Linked DNA regions of Homo sapiens: region 1 is linked to region 2. Evidence: fine-mapped expression QTL. A gene starts in region 2. The other region holds a variant in brackets. All regions are shown on one strand. Distances are from middle to middle.

Evidence for each region.
Region 1: its variant is fine-mapped to the expression of RASEF in iPS cells (HipSci, PIP 0.95).

What each region holds. Positions count from the first base shown.
Region 1 is chr9:82,761,709-82,770,049 of GRCh38, forward strand. The region is part of intron 2 of LOC107987087 (a long non-coding RNA gene); the gene reads left to right. All of the region lies in intron 1 of LOC124902188 (a long non-coding RNA gene), which reads right to left. LOC124902189 (a long non-coding RNA gene) reads right to left here and starts at 2,055. Exons shown (of 2, transcript XR_007061609.1): 1 at 1,683-2,055. The variant TTTTA/T (reference allele first, on the strand shown) is at 4,084.
Region 2 is chr9:83,058,057-83,066,397 of GRCh38, forward strand. RASEF (RAS and EF-hand domain containing) reads right to left here and starts at 5,086. Exons shown (of 17, transcript NM_152573.4): 1 at 4,381-5,086. The coding sequence starts at 4,811.

The DNA.
Region 1 (8,341 bases), 300 kb before region 2:
TATAAATACATAATTCAGCCTAAGAAATGTTTTCCAATAGGTTTCTGGTAGTTACAAGAGAGGATGATTATGAATATTAACAGCCCACAGCCAGTAGGAAATAGCCTTAAGGTCAAATAAGACCCTACAATGTTGATACCATCAACATGTAACTTTTATGTTCAACTCATGGAAATTATGAGGGACAGTAAATGACCTAGGGAAAACTTACACACAACCTGAAAGCACACTGTAATTCTTTTCATGTGTCTATTTTCTTTTGTCTATTTCAGTTCTGTAAAATAAACTCACTTTTAAGATAAGCTATATTGCTCTTTTAGGCTGGGAAGATCTCAAAGCCTCTCTGTCTTTAAACTAGTATCTTCCCACCTCCCACCATCACCTCCCCAGCTGCTGCTGTTTCCCATTGCTGAAGAAATTCAGCTAGAATCTGTTATAACAGGAGGTGGGTTCCAACAGTCTAATTTCATCCAAGTGTGGATGCTGGGGACTCCCCCATCCATATGTCTCTCTCCTCCTGGAGGCTTCTGAATGTCCTGGGCTGTTGACAGAATGGCCATGTGGGGAAATTTGAATGTGGCTCAGCAAAGTCTACGGGACGAGCGGCCACCATGGCTGCTGGAAGATGCACCAGCAATATGCTGGCAGATACAGGTGGAAGGCTCTCCCCAGAGGGCTACATGGCTCATCAGGCAGGTGACAAGTGGGGTTAACTCTAGTGTTGATGGATGCCCTGCTGGTCCTTTGTGGTCTCCCACAGCCCTCTGGTGCTGGCAAGAGATGGTGCTGGGCTCTTTCTATTGATCCTGCTTTCCTCCAAGTCGTGCTCCAGATTTCATTCCTCCCCCCCATCCAGCTCCTGTTCCCTTTTCCCAGCCCAGTGCACCTTGACTAGATGGCCACATGTCCTAATTTGCGCAGGTCAGTCCTATTCTGCCTGTTTGGACCCAGTAAAATGATGTATAATGGCCGCTTTTACTCTCAACAGTGACCCATTTGGACCTTAGGTTATGTGGTCACCCTAATCTTGTCCATTCTTGGCAGGAAGGGCATTGTCTGAATCTCTCAGTCTTCTTTTGTAATCTGTTGCTACAGCACACACTTGCCACATTCTCTCCTAGAGGGCTTTATGCTTGGATTCGTAAGAGCACTCCCCTTTTTTTCTCCTCGAAGTCACTCTTGCAAATGAAAAGTTTTGGCTATCAAAGCCGGTTTGCTAGTTTCTGAGGCTGGCATCCCAAGCTTATTTTAAAAGCCCAAGATGGAACATTAGCTGCTTTGCTCTCTCACCTTGTGTCCCTGCCTCTCCTCAAGGCAGTGTAGATGACTGAACTATGGAAGGTGTCCTGTAGAGCGATGTCTAGAAAGTAACCCCAATGATTTGTATTCAATGCTATCTCCTCACCATGCTCTCACTTTCAAACCCCCATTTGCAACTTGCAAATCTCAAGGCATTGTCTTCACATTTTCTGTGCCTAGTGTAAGTTTTGTAGAAAAAAAAAATGATTGCTATTGTTATTATTTAGTGGCACACAGGTTATCTCCTATACCCCTCATTCTCCCCAGTTAGCAGATATGGTATATACACACACACACACACACACACACACACATGTATATACATATATATATATACACACACATATATATATATAGCTAGATGCATAGAGAAGTTAACTCACCTGTGCAAGATTACAAAAAGTGCCTGAGCCAAAATTTGACTCCAGAGTTCATGTACGTAAAACAAAAAGAGCTCCTAAAGACACAAAGCTTGCAGATCTGTAATTTGGCAGAATAATCAAAATGCAGTAGAAATTTTGTTCCTGAGAGAGTGGAGGGTATGGTAAATCCAATCAGAAATGCTTTATCATTTTTGTAGTTTTCTTCGAATGACTCCAGATCTTCCCAAAAGCAGCTTCCAAAGCACCTTTGCATCTCTCCCACTGACAGGATGGGCCTAAAGCCTCCTCTCAAGAATAGCTCTGTCTTCATACTTATTCACATCTGCATGAGTTTCAACTCTGAGGCAAGTTCTTTGCATAGAAAGGATCACCTAAAAGCAGCCCCACATCCTTCTAAACGGCAGAGTGTGAAGTGGTACCTGAGCTCCACCTACCGTGCTCCTTGAGGTTGTTTTAAATCAGGGAGCCCAGCTGGCCCAGAACCCAGATGGCTTTCCACTCCCCATGTGGCAGCCATCAGCTCTAAGACCCCAGCTCAGTGACCAGGCCATCAAAGAGGCTGCCAAGATCAGACAGGCTGTATTCTCTCACAGCTTTTTACAGGAAGCAAAGGAGCTAAAGGGAATAATGACAGAGGTAGCCTGCAAACGTAACCAGAGGTATGTATTTTAAAGGATGAATAAAAACAAATGACTATGTTGTAGAAATCTATTTCAGCATGTATGTGCATCAGAGTAGAAATCATTTATTTTCCTGGTCTCTCATGAGAGTTGATATTACAGTGCCTACATAGAATAACTAGCCATTATAAATGTAGAGTGCTTTAGGACTGTCAAAGCAATCACACCGAAATTACCCCAGTGATATCTAATCTCCATCATGCACTCAATATGTGCATGGACCTATACTGATAAGATGGAATTAATATCTCAAAGGCAAGAATTTTTTTTTTCCCTGATAGAGTCAGGTGTTTTGCAGTGATGGATGAGGTCAAACAGAATTTGTCAGAATTAACACAGCTGTTTCCGCATGTGGTGTTTGGGTTGCAATTCTCATTTGTGGCTTTTATTGTTCCCTTCTCCACATTTCAGCGCAATGGCAGATGTTTCCTAAGTGTATACCCCTCGTGTTACTTTACATCCCCTTGCAGGATGATACTGGGCCACAGCCTCCCATGGGGTTACAGCTAGAGAATCTTGTATAAAATATTTTTCCTTGATCAACGTAATATATGCATGTAGCAGAAAATCAAATAGAATAGACTGGCTTATAAAATAAAGTGAGAGTCTGTCACCTCCCCACTTTCTACTCTCCAAGGGCAATCATGTTTAACTATTTCTGTGTCTAGTTTTTTTGAGTGTTAGATACGGATCTGAGTGATCTATTTTTAGGACTAATTCTTGATGTATAGGCTTTAGCTATTCTCAGTTTAATGTCTTACTGATTGAAAAGAATACTTTTTAATATCTTCTTCCTCTCTTCTCAATTTTTGATGGCTATATCACTATTTTTTTGCCTCAAATTGTTACTTTTGTAACTAAAAATGAAATCCATAAGCCCTCATTTTGTGTTCCATACATTTTTGAAAATATAGACTGAATTCCCAACTTGTAAAACAAGAATTTAAAACACATCTATCCTTCCATTTCCCTCCCATCTTCCAATCTATTTTAAACATTTAAGTATAGCTCTTGTTTTAACTACATGTTGATTATAAAAATTGACAGGCACTAAATATCTTAGCAGGATTATAACTATATAAATATTGCTCATTGGAAAGTCAAAGACTATGTCATAGTCACATTTCATTGTCTGCGGTTCCCACCACCCTTCCTTCTGTCCTTGAAATCACAGTGTTCCTAGTATCAGTTACTGTCTCTAGTAAAAATTACAGTCCCTGATGAAATCTGTTTTTTCTTTCCCTGTACATGCATTAAAATCATTCCATATTTTGGTTTGGTTTGTATTTGGGCCATGATTGTGTATTTATTTCCTGGAATTTCTTACTTTCTTTTCTTACAGTTGAAAGAGTTATAACCTATCATGGTGTGCCTAATTCATCTGCAGGCTCTTCTGATTCTCCTTTGCTTAATAAACATCTCCATCTTTTGAAGATATTTACTCGCATCCCACTAACCCCACATTCTAATTTGGGCTCGCTGTTTTGTGAGCCTGCTGCTTAGCTGCTGTCTCGGGATTTCATCTTATTGGATTCATAATTTCCACGTTTCCCCCTTTTAGTGATGGACTATATGCTTGAGTAATATCCTCAGAAAAAGTGAATAAGAAGTAAGCTTCCCAAATTTTGTTTGATTTTGGTTTGCTCAAAATATGACTCTGTGTGCGTGTATGTGTTCATGGGTGTGTGTGTGTGTTTCTTAAATTCATCCTTTGTTGTAAT[TTTTA/T]TTTATTTATTTATTTATTTATTTATTTATTTATTTATTTATTTGACAGTTTTGCTCTTGTTGCCCAGGCTGGAGTGCAATGGCGAGATCTTGGCTCACTGCAACCTCCGCCTCCCAGGTTCAAGCGATTCTCCTGCCTCAGCCTCCTGAGGCATGTGCCACCACGCCCAGCTAATTTTGTATTTTTAGTAGAGACATGGTTTCAACATGCTGGCCAGGCTGGTTTCAAACTCCTGATCTCAGGTAATCCACCCATCTCGCCCTCCCAAAGTGTTGGAATTACAGGAGTGAGCCACTGCTCCCGGCATTGGGGTTTCGATCCTGTTATTTATTTCTCTAATAGTTTCCTCCTCTACATTCTCTCTGCTTGCTCTCTCTCTGGACTAATCTTCTATATTTTTTCATTTTTTGTCCTGGTATTTTCTTTCCCTTTCTTTTTGCTCCACATTCTGAAATTTATCAAACCTTTAAATATTGTTATAGCAATCATGTTTTCATATTCTAAGAATATTTGTGTCTTGTCTGTTCATTTCTTAACAATCTGTTCTTGTTTTATAGGTGACGTACCCTTTTGGCTTTCTGATAATCCCAATCACATTTTTTTCAATAACTTTAAAAATTAAAATGTTTCGGGCCCACGCGGTGGCTCACGCCTGTAATCCCAGCACTTTGGGAGGCCGAGGTGGGCAGATCACCAGGTCAGGAGATCAAGACCATCCTGGCTAACATGGTGAAACCCCGTCTCTACTAAAAAATACAAAAAATTAGCCAGGCTTGGTGGCGGGCACCTGTAGTCCCAGCTACTCGGGAGGCTGAGGCAGGAGAATGGCATGAATCCAGGAGGCGGAGCTTGCAGTGAGCCGAGATCATGCCACTGCACTCCAGCCTGGGTGAGAGAGCGAGACTCCGTCTCAAAAAAAAAAAAAAAAAAAAAAAATTAAAATGTTTCAAAATAATTTGGATTCGTCTGCAATAGTAAGAAATGACACACAGAGATCCCGAGGACACTTCATCCAGTTTCCCCCCAAAATATTTGCAAAACTATAGTTTAATATCACAACCAGGACACTGACAATTCACTCATTCTTATTTTCTCAGTTTTAAGTGAACGTGTGCACGTATCTTTAGTGTGCCTTTAGTTCTGTGCAATTTTATCACGTGTGGGTTTGTGTATCCACTACTACAGTCGTGACACTGAATCACCACAAGGATCCCTCATGGTGCCTTTTTACAATCTCCTGCCTTCATCCAAATCTCTTCCATCTCTACCTGACAACCACTAATCTGCTCTCCTTTTTTTACAATTTTGCCATTTTGAAATGTTATATGAACGAAAACTGTTCATTGGTACATTATGTTACATTTTTGGATTTGTTGTTTTTTCCTACTCAGTATACATTTTGTGGGAATTTATTCAAATTGTTATATACATTAATATTTTGTTCCTTTTTATTGTCAAGTGGTATACTATGGTATGTATGTAACAGTGCATTCCTTTTTATTGTTGAGTACTATTCCACAATCTATATGTAGCACAGTTTATTTAACTATTCACCAGCTGAAGAACATCTAGGCTATTTCCCATTTTTATTATTGTGAGTAAAGCTGGTATGAAGATTCATGTACAGGTTTTGTGTGAGCATGTTTATTTCTCGAACAGACACCCAAAAGTGCAATTGCTGGGTCATGTGCTAATTGCATGTTTAGTTCTATAAGAAACTGCCGAACTATTATGAGTGATCTGGTTTCTTCACATCCTCATCAGCATTCTGTGTTGTTACTTTTTTTTTTTATAGATGTGTAGTAATATCTCATTGTACTTTTTTTTTTTTTTTTGATATGGAGTCTCACTCTCTTGCCCAGGCTGGAGTGCAGTGACGCTATCTTGGCTCACTGCAAGCTCCACCTCCTGGGTTCACGCCATTCTCCTGCCTCAGCCTCCCGAGTAGCTGGGACTACAGGCGCCCACCACCACACCCAGCTAATTTTTTTTGTATTTTTAGTAGAGACAGGGTTTCACCGTGTCAGCCGGGATGGTCTCGATCTCCTGACCTGGTGATCCGCCTGCCTCGGCCTCCCAGAGTTTTGGGATTACAGGCGTGAGCCGCTGCACCCAGCCCATTATACTTTTAATTTGCATTTCTGTCATGGCTAAAATGATGCTGAACATCTTTTCCTGTGCATATTTGTCATCTGCATATCCTCTTTGGCAAAATGTCTCTACATGACTTGTGCTCATTTTCTAATTGGATTGTTGGTTTTTTACTGCTGAGTTTGAGAGTTCTTTAGATTTTCTAGATGTTAGTCTTTTATTGGATAGGTGGTTTGCAAATATTTTCTCCCAGTTGGCAGCTTTCCTTTTAGCCTCTTTATAGGGGCTTTAGAGAGCAAAAGTTTAAATACTGATAAAGTCCAAATTATTAATTTTTTTCTTTTTTCCTTTTAATTCATGGTTTTGGTGTCAAGCCTAAGAAATTATTGCTAGCCCTAGGTCTGGAAGATTTTCTCCTATGTTTTTATTTTCTAAAAGTTGTATATGTCTACATTTTACATTTAAATCCACCATCCATTTCGAGTTAATTTTTGTTTAATGTGTGAGGTTTCAGTTGAGGCTTTTTTTTTTTTTTTTTTTTTTTTTTGCCTATGAATGTCCAGTTGCTCCAGTACCAATTGTGGGAAAGACCATACTTCTTTTAGTGCATTGCTTTTGGACCTTTGCCAAAGTCCATTGGACATATTTGTGTGGGCCTATTTCTGGATACTCTATTCTGTCTCACTCATCTATGGGTTTCTCCCTCTGCCAATGTAATACTGTCTTGATTACTGTAGCTATACAGTAAGCCTTAATATGTGATACAGTGACTCCTCCTACTTTATTCTTCTTTGTCAAGGTTGTTTTAATTATTCTACGGCTTGTACCTTTCCATATAAATTTTAGAATAAGCTCATCTATGTCCATAGAAACCCTTGCTTGGATTTTGCTAGGAATTACATTAAACGTATAGATCACTACAGGGCAGAACTGACATCTTTACTATATCTAGTCTACCAATTCATGCACACCACATATATCTCCATTTATCTAGGTCTTCCTTGATTTCTTTTAACAGCATTTTGTAATTGTCAGCATACATACGCCATATATGTTTTGTTAAGTGTATTTCATTTTCTTTGGAGTGACTGTAAATGGTATTGTACTCTCCATTTTGATTCCCGCATGTTCATTGTTAGAATATAGAAATACATTTGGTTTTTTTTTGTTTCTTTTGTATGCTATGACCTTACTGAACTTATTAGTTCTAGGTATTCTTTTGTGGATTCCTTGGAATTTTATACATAGACAATCATGTCATCTGCAAATAGAGACAATTTTACCGCTTCCTTTCCAATCTGTATGTTTTTTACTTCATTTTCTTGATTCATTTCAGTATCTAGAACTGTCAACACTATTTTGAATAAGAGTGGTGGAAATGAACATTCTCACCTTACACATGATCTTGGGGTAAAGCATTTAGTCTCTTGCCATTAAGTCTGTTGCTAGTTGTAGGATTTTGGTAGATGTTATTTTTCTTTTTCTTTTTTTTTTTATTATACTTTAAGTTTTAGGGTAAATGTGCACATTGTGCAGGTTAGTTACATATGTATACATGTGACAAGCTGGTGCGCTGCACCCACTAACTCGTCATCTAGCATTAGGCATATCTCCCGATGCTATCCCTCCCCCCTCCCCCCACCCCACAACAGTCCCCAGATTGTGATATTCCCCTTCCTGTGTCCATGTGATCTCATTGTTCAATTCCCACCTATGAGTGACAATATGCGGTGTTTGGTTTTTTGTTCTTGCGATAGTTTACTGAGAATGATGATTTCCAACTTCATCCATGTCCCTACAAAGGACATGAACTCATCATTTTTTATGGCTGCATAGTATTCCACGGTGTGTATGTGCCACATTTTCTTAATCCAGTCTATCATTGTTGGACATTTTGGTTGGTTCCAAGTCTTTGCTATTGTGAATAATGCCACAATAAACATACGTGTGCATGTGTCTTTATAGCAGCATGATTTAGTCCTTTGGGTATATACCCAGTAATGGGATGGCTGGGTCAAATGGTATTTCCAGTTCTAGATCCCTGAGGAATCGCCACACTGACTTCCACAATGGTTGAACTAGTTTACAGTCCCACCAACAGTGTAAAAGTGTTCCTATTTCTCCACATCCTCTTCAGCACCTGTTGTTTTCTGACTTTTTAA
Region 2 (8,341 bases):
TTCCTTTCCCCTCCATCTGAGCTCTGTGTTTCACTCCCTCTCAACATGTCCCCCTCTGCCACTCTATCTCTGGCCTTCTCTCTTGCTCTCCGGCTCACTCCTGATGTATTTATGTCTTTTTTTTTTTTTTTTTTTTTTTTTTTTGAGAAGGAGTCTCGCTCTGTCGCCCAGGCTGGAGTGCAGTGGCGCGATCTCGGCTCACTGCAAGCTCCGCCTCCCGGGTTCACACCATTCTCCTGCCTCAGCCTCCCGAGTAGCTGGGACTACAGGTGCCCGCTACCACGCCCGGCTAATTTTTTGTATTTTTAGTAGAGACGGGGTTTCACCGTGTTAGCCAGGATGGTCTCCATCTCCTGACCTCGTGATCCGCCCGCCTCGGCCTCCCAAAGTGCTGGGATTACAGGCGTGAGCCACCGCGCCCGGCCGTATTTATGTCTTTCTTTGCCTCTGTCTCTCCTCTCCCTTTTCTATCTTGTCAAGCACCGTTTCATGTAAATTAAGGGAGCTGTGAAGCAACTACACTATTACAAAACAAGGCAATCATTCTGAAAAGGGCTAAACTAGAACCCAAGAAAGGGAAATGGAGAAGCAACCCTCACCAATACTGAAACTTCGCCTCTGCCTACTGGCAGCTACTTGTTTTTAAAAATTTCCCAATTAAATGGGATTGCTGTCCAATGGGTGAGCCTTTCCTCTTGAGTTTAATAAGGTAAGCCGTTTTGCCAATCTCTATACAATTCACATATGGAAAGTTTTGGTTCCTCTCAATTAAATTTGTTTTTAAATTACCAAATAAAAGAATCCCCTTCGACATCGTGCATGTAGAAACATCGCAAACCATGTGAAACAGCTAACGGTGCTGATTTTGACGTCTCAACAAATCCTAGCCTAGCACTGCCTGGCAGGTCACCCATCACTATACCTGCCACACCCTCAGGTACCTGACCTGAGGCTGTCCCTCCTTTGGATACTTTTGGGATACCTGTGCCCACTCACAGACCCTCAGTGGTTCCAGTGCCAGCTGCACCCTCACATTCCTGTTTGTGAGAATGTGGGGTTTTCTAAGTTAATTTATCAGCATGAATCAATTCACAGATAACACTCAAAATTGCTGCAAATGGGAGTTGAGAAAAAACTGAAAAGTTTCAGCTCTGACTAGAGGTCAGAGAAGAGGCCTTCATCCCTGCTCTCAGCCATCCATCAAATGCTCAATACACACACACACACACACACACACACACACACACAGCCTATTTCCTTCTCTTGGCAATCTTTGAACACCAAGACTGGCTCACAACAGTAACTGAAAAAAAAAAAAAAAAGTGAGAGAACCTGCAAAAGAAGTGGAGAAAATGCTCACAGCATGAACTACACTCTCTCTCAAAATGCAGATATATGAAACAAGAATCAAAGAATACTGATTTATTCTATTCATTTGGCAAACATTTACTGAGTATCTCCTGAGTATGAAACTCCCTTTCACCAAGACAATGACCCAGGCATCAGAAACTGGCAAGGCTACATTATAAGTTGGCTCTCTGCCCTGCCCCTCCACCCTCAACACCCACACATTTTCTTCCTACTTCCAGGACTTTTCTTGGCCTGGTAGCACCTGTCCTCCCAAATTCTCTTATGTAACTAAATCACACTGTCCTGCTGCCTTCACCTGTTGGCTGACCTTATCAAACTGACCAGGAAGTGGTCAAGGCCCATCCTGACCTTGCAGACCCTTCATATCTGCCAGGCTCAGCTTACCCGGTCACACAACTCCTTGGACACTCCTTCCTCAGCCTTCAAAACAAAAAGTCCCTCAATTTTCTAAGAGAAAATGAACTCAACAATGACACATATCCCAAAAGCTACTTTCATCCCTTCATGATGCAATATTATCTTCCCTCTAACATCACGATTACTGATGACTGGCGAGTTTAACCCAAAATTGCTTAATATTTTGCTTGAAAGATTCTTTAAATGAAAATCAACAGTGTCATGCTTTGCCTTTATAGGAACCAAACATTTTCCTATTTAATATCCGTTCCTCTCAAACTGGATGTGAACACTCCCCAGGATAGCCCTGGGGCAGACTGTCCCCAGGGATAAGATTGAGTGCCAGGTGGGAAACAAAGCCACAAGTTGGAATGGCACACCTTCCTAGAAAGACAATTCTCCCTTCAGAAGAAACTCTATTTTATATGAAAACAAGTCCCAAAATATTGTGTACAAAGATGAACAACTTAATCACTTTTTAAAGAAAAGCTCAAGACTTCAAAGAAAATTCTTGCTTGCAGCCGTCTGTTGGGCTATGTCCACAATACAGGGAGTTTCCTACAAATGTTCTTTGCCTTTAAATGTTCTTCGATGAAGTTGCTGGAAAAATGTTTCATCCACACCATGAGCATCTTGAGGGCATGAACTACATACTATCCTTCTCTTTGTCCCCAGCAACCTAGGACAGTACCTAAGCCAGTATTTGGCATATGGCAGGCAATTGGTAATGCTTATGGAATACATTTGGCTGAAATAATGCCGACAGCATTATCAATAACAAAAAAGTGTTTAAATCACATTTGGATGGAAGGAAGAAAAGGTCAACAGCTGTATGAGGAAGTGAAGTAGAATTAATCCAATTTACCAAAACAGCGGATGGCTGCCATGGTAACAATCTGATGCAGCAACTCAGTTTAGATCTCTTCCACTTGAACATGAGAGGAAGACAAATATTGTACTTGTTAATCTCACATCAGGAGGTGAGGCTTAGGACACAAGTCTACCAGGTGACACCGGTGCCCATTAAATGTAGTAATCTCTGAAGAATTTGGAAAGGCAACATGATAATAATAATTCCACCAATAATATTAATTCCTGGTTTGTACACTGACCCAGGTCATTTCAATCATTTAAGGTTGTGTGTGAAATATTTGTTGCTGAGACTAGACAACTGTGAAAAACAGATCCACATGTATGCATACATCATATCCAATATGATGTGGACTCACCCTGCCTCATTCCTAAAATTCTTACTTTTTTTAACTAGCTGCACCCAAACTAAGTTACAGATGAAAGATGACTCAAATAAAGAGTATAGGTTGTAGCAGTGTTTAAATTTTGCTACTTCCCTGGTTGGGGAGTAACTCATTTGTAAATAACAGAAAAGATCGTTACACACCCACTTTCTCTACACAACCCTTCTATGGCAGTGAGTCACTCTCCATGCCCAATATTCCCCTTACTTTCCAAGCTGGAGGGAGAAGTTGGGAGGAGAAGGAAGTGAGGGCTTCCAATGAACAAGCACACTGACAACCTTCCAGGGATACTTCCTTTTCAATGTTCTGTCTCAGATGTGCAAACTGCCAACCAAAATGATGCCTTTCAGAGCGTCTTAATAACGACAGCCAGAGCTCAGCAAAATTTCAGCTAAAATCCAAACATAAAGCAGAAAAACACTTAACAGCACTGAAATGTGTGTATCGCTGGGGCATGAAGTGAAAAATAGCAGCTGGAGACACCCACCACACCAAGGCATGGACAAATGCAAACGAAACTCAAAAAGAAAATCTGAGCCTCTCTCCCTCCAGGCCCTGAAATCCCACCTGCAGGCATCCCCTTACCTCCTGATAATTAAGTCCGTGACTTGACACGTTATTTCTGTCAGAGCAGTAAGAGCAGAGAATATACTGTGTCATTTTATCATTTTATTCCGTCACATAAAAAGTGAGTTTTTCAGTTCACAAAATTTGGGTCAAATCTCTGCTGTTTAACTGGGCAAGTCCCTTAACGTCTGTCTAATTTCTAGGTCTAAGTTCAGAAATAAGCTAGCCTACCTTCTAGGGATGTTATGAAAATTAAATGCGTGAACTCTGTAAAATGCCTAGCAGGTACATCAATCAATATTTGTGTCCAGCAATGTAAAAGCCCAACAAAGTTTCCTTTTCTATAGTCTTAGGAAAACGACAAATCAGAAAACTATTACAGAGGACGCCAAATTGGCAAACAGCCCGGGCCCCAGCCCTGGGGTGAGAGCCTAAGGCCTGGGGTAGAAGGTGACGTAACCAGGACGCGGTGAGATGTGGCGCGCGCGCCTAAACTCGCGCGGGGCGCCAGCAGCTGCAGATTTCAGGAGAGCTCCTGTAATGAACACGCCGCCCTTTGCAGGCTCAGGATTCAGCACGTAAAACTTTCTCCCCAAACGCTGACTCTCTGACTCCTTTTTCTTAACTCTAGCGGATCTTGGAAAAGTCAAAGCGAGTAGGTGAAGGAAGACAAGCAACTCACAGAGAAGACTAGGGGGGGGGGCCATTGGGTCTGCACACCTGCAAGTAAGTGGGAAGAAGCAAGCAGGAAGCGCCAGAATAACCTCCCGCCCCCAGCTCACACTCGCACCTGGGAATGAACTTGGCTTCGTCCCCAAGTCGCGCCTGGAAATCCTGCCAAGCCCGGCCGGGACTCGCCGGGCCGCACGAGGTGGCCAGCGCCGCCGCCGCGTCCTCGTCGCCTTCGTCCTCCTCGCTGTCGTGTGTCTCCGGCCCCGCCTCAGACACGGCGGGCGCGGGATCCAGAGGACCCCAGTCCCGGCGCCGCCCCCCGCGGAGGGACCCGAGGAAGCCACGCGCGAACTCCTGGAAGGTGATGGCGCCGTCACGGTCGGCGTCCAGCCGCTGGAATACTGCCTCGGCGTCGGCCGGCCGCACCCGCAGCTCCGTGCACAGTGCCCGGAACTCCTCGCGCTCCAGGCGCCCCGAGCGGTTCGCGTCGCAGGCGGCGAAGACTGAGCGCAGCCGGGCCAGCTCCTCTCCGTCCCCATCCGCCTCCATCCCGCCTGGCGGGGGCGGCCGAGAGGGCTCCGGAGCGCCGCGGGGCGCAGGGCCCTCCCTGGAAGGACGGGGCCACCTGCTGCCGCCGGGAGGCCCGGCGAGTTTGGCTCGTCCGGCTGGTTCGGCCACTTGAGGGAACGTCGGGCGGGGCGAGGAACGTCGGGGGTGGCCGAGCGGCTCCCTTCGACGACGGTTCGGGCCAGCCCCCAACAGGTCCCGGGAGCGGTGGGGTGCGCCCGGGCTCCAGGCACCGCCAAGGAGCGCCTCCTGCGACTGAGCGCCCAAGCGCCGAGGTGGCTCTCGCCACTTTCCCGGCGGGTGCAGCTCCGCCCAGCCAGGGAGGAGGAGCGCGCGCCACCGCTTCTCCAGTTCCCACGCCCCGGAGTCCACCGCTGCTTGCCGCGCAGGTGGGGGAGACCTGGCTGGCCGGAACTGGGATTCGGGGGGAGCATTGCCCTTCGGCGTAAGCGCTGCTCAGGTAGAGCCCAGCGCTCCGCTTCTCCACAGAACGTGCTGGCGCGCGCGTCAGAAGCTAACCGCACAGAGGTAAGGTAGGTAGGGGTAGGATTCCGAATGGGTTAAGTGCATTTTATTATCTTACTCCCGAAACTTGATAAACTTCTTTATATAGAAGTTTCTTACAAACCAAAGTACAAGATTTACCAGAAGACCCCATTCTCAATTTTACTGGCTTTCGTTAACGCATTTTTGTGCGTCTAACGTTAAGGTCCCACTGCTTAAACACAGATCTTCCAGATCTCCAATTCCACATTTTTTCTCAATCCTTGTCTCCAAAACCTGAGAAAAAATTTGATAAACAAAATCGTTTGGCAGACAGCATTGTTTAAACAAAGACTGAGGTCGTTTTGTAGGTTTTTTTACTTAAACAAACTTTATGGAAATTACATATCCAAAGGTAGGTTACCCTTTGGTTTTAAACACTTTTTTCGACAATACTATTGTTTCTTTAACACTGCTTAATGGATATGAGATCTTTAAAATCCACCCATTTTGATCCTTTTAAACACTTTTTCCATCCTTTTCCAGGAGACCCTCAGTCTGTCATACGGCTTATGTAACCGTGCCTTTAGGCGATTCTCATAGCCTGTGAAGATATATTTGGCTCATTTTTACTTTATTTACATTATCCATTTCCTCCACATTTTAGACTTTCTGACTCTGTATTTTTCTTTTATCTCATTCTGGATTCTCTTTATCGTTTATTACTTTGATTTTTTAAAAATGTGATCATTAAGTAAGGGATATTACTGACACGTTCCTACTAGGCTAGTGTTCTTAAACATAAAGCTAAGTGCTAAACATCTGGGGAACTATTTCCTCTTGAATTGTACAATAAACATGGTCAACACTAACAGCTTCTATTAAACTGTAACTACTACTGATAACCCCCATCTGAAAATTTAACTGGTAAATTATGAGAGGCATTCCATTAGAAGTCCTGGTCTTAGCAACCTAATTGCTAAGTGAATATAGTTGTATACAGTTGGACAGCTAATACAATGAATCTTATCATTAGTGCAATGTAAGTTGTTATTGATTTTGAGCTTATGTGCTTTCCTGTTTATTCTAAAGATTGATTTTTCCATATGAATTTAAAAGTAGCTGGCTTGGTAATGCCTTTAAAGCTTTACAAATATACTTATTAAACTAAATCTTTGAACTATTATTATATTTATACTGTTAGCAACTAATGGATATCTATGTCTTTAAAAATAGATGCTTTCATGTTTTTAACTGCTTAGGAAGAAGTGCTTTTTTGAAGATTGCTTGCACAACTTTATTCCTGAATTTTTACTCTGACCTTTGTGCTCATTTTTTCTGAATTCTTATGTTCTGTGACCTGCTTTGCCCTTTCCCTAAGCCCCTTCATTGAAGAGTCATCAAGAAACACGAATTGGCCTGGCACAGTGGCTCATGCCTGTAATCCCAGCACTTTGGGAGGCTGAGGTGGGTGGATCACTTGAAGTCAGGAGTTCGAGACCAGCCTGACCAACATGGTGAAAGCCTGTCTCTACTAAAAATACAAAAAATTAGCTGGGCGTGGTGGCGGGCACCTTTAGTCCCAGCTACTTGGATAGCTGAGGCAGGAGAATCACTCGAACCTGAGAGGCAGAGGTTGCAGTGAGCCGAGATCGCGCCACTGCACTCCAGCCTGGGCAACAGAGCAAGACTATGTCTCAAAACAAAAAACACAAAACAAAAACAAAAAACACACAAATTATTCCAAATGTCTTGTGCATGCATTTTTCTTATTCTTATTTCTACCAATATTAATATACTTCAGACCTCCGATATCAGTTATTTATCACTGCATAACAACAGTAGTGATCTAAAAGTGCTACCATTTTATTTGTTCATAATTCCATTATCATCAATTTGGGCAGGGCTCAGCTAGGTGGTTTGTCTGCTGGCTTGCCTGGGATCTCTCAGGTGGTTTTCTTGTTGACTCAACTGGGGCTGGATGGTTATAGAGTCTCACTCATTTTTCTGGAAGCTGGTGCTGGCTGTTGGCTGGGCCATGTGTCTTCAGGAAGCTAGCATGAGTTTTGTCACATGGTGGCAATGTTCCAAGCGAGTAAGCCCCAGTGTACAAGTGCTCTTCAAGCTTTAGCTTATGTCATATTTGCTGATATTCCATTGACAAGTCACATTGGCAAGTCACATGGCCAAGCCCTAAGTCAGTGTGGGAAGGGACTACAAAAAAAACAGGGATACAGAGAAATGTACTTCATTGGAGGCTCTTACTGTTACAATATACCATACCTAAGGTAAAGAGACAGCCTCTAATATATTCTCCCAGGCTCTTGTCCTAACATCCTGTTTATTCTGCACAACCACAGCTGGACAGTCCTTCTCAAACACCAATTATTCTATCATTCTCTACTCTTTAATTCTCAATCAGTCAACAATTTTGTTTCGCAGGGGACATTTGGCAGTGTCTGATGACATTTTTGGCTGTCTTAATTTGATAAGGGGTAGATGCTCCTGGCCTCTAGTAGGTAGCTGCAGGGATGCTACGGAATATCCTGTAATGCACAGGCCAGAGCCTCCCCTCCTTCCCATTACAAAGAATTATCTGGCCAAAAATGTCAATTGTGCTGAGGTTGAGGAAGCCTGTACCCTAACTCATAAACCCCCAGTGGTGCTCCAATAAAAAGAGAACTAAAGGTAAACTCTTAATCCGAGCATCCACAGCCCTCTGTAATTTGCTCTGACTACATAGATCAAATATTTCACCCTTTAGTCTCTATCATGGCTTTTATTGTCCCCCAAATAAGCCACACTTCATCACATGATTACGTTAGTAGCTCCTTACTATCAGGACAAAATGTAAATATCAAGCAGATCTTTTAGCTTTTCTCTCTTCTGTCTAACCAAACCATTTCCCAGCTTAAGTAAAAGAATTGGATCCTGCTTTTTCTACAAACGTTTACACAATTGCATTGTGACCTGCCACTCATAAATACATCACTTAGTGTGTATGTCAGTTCAGGTATCAGGCAGCAGGA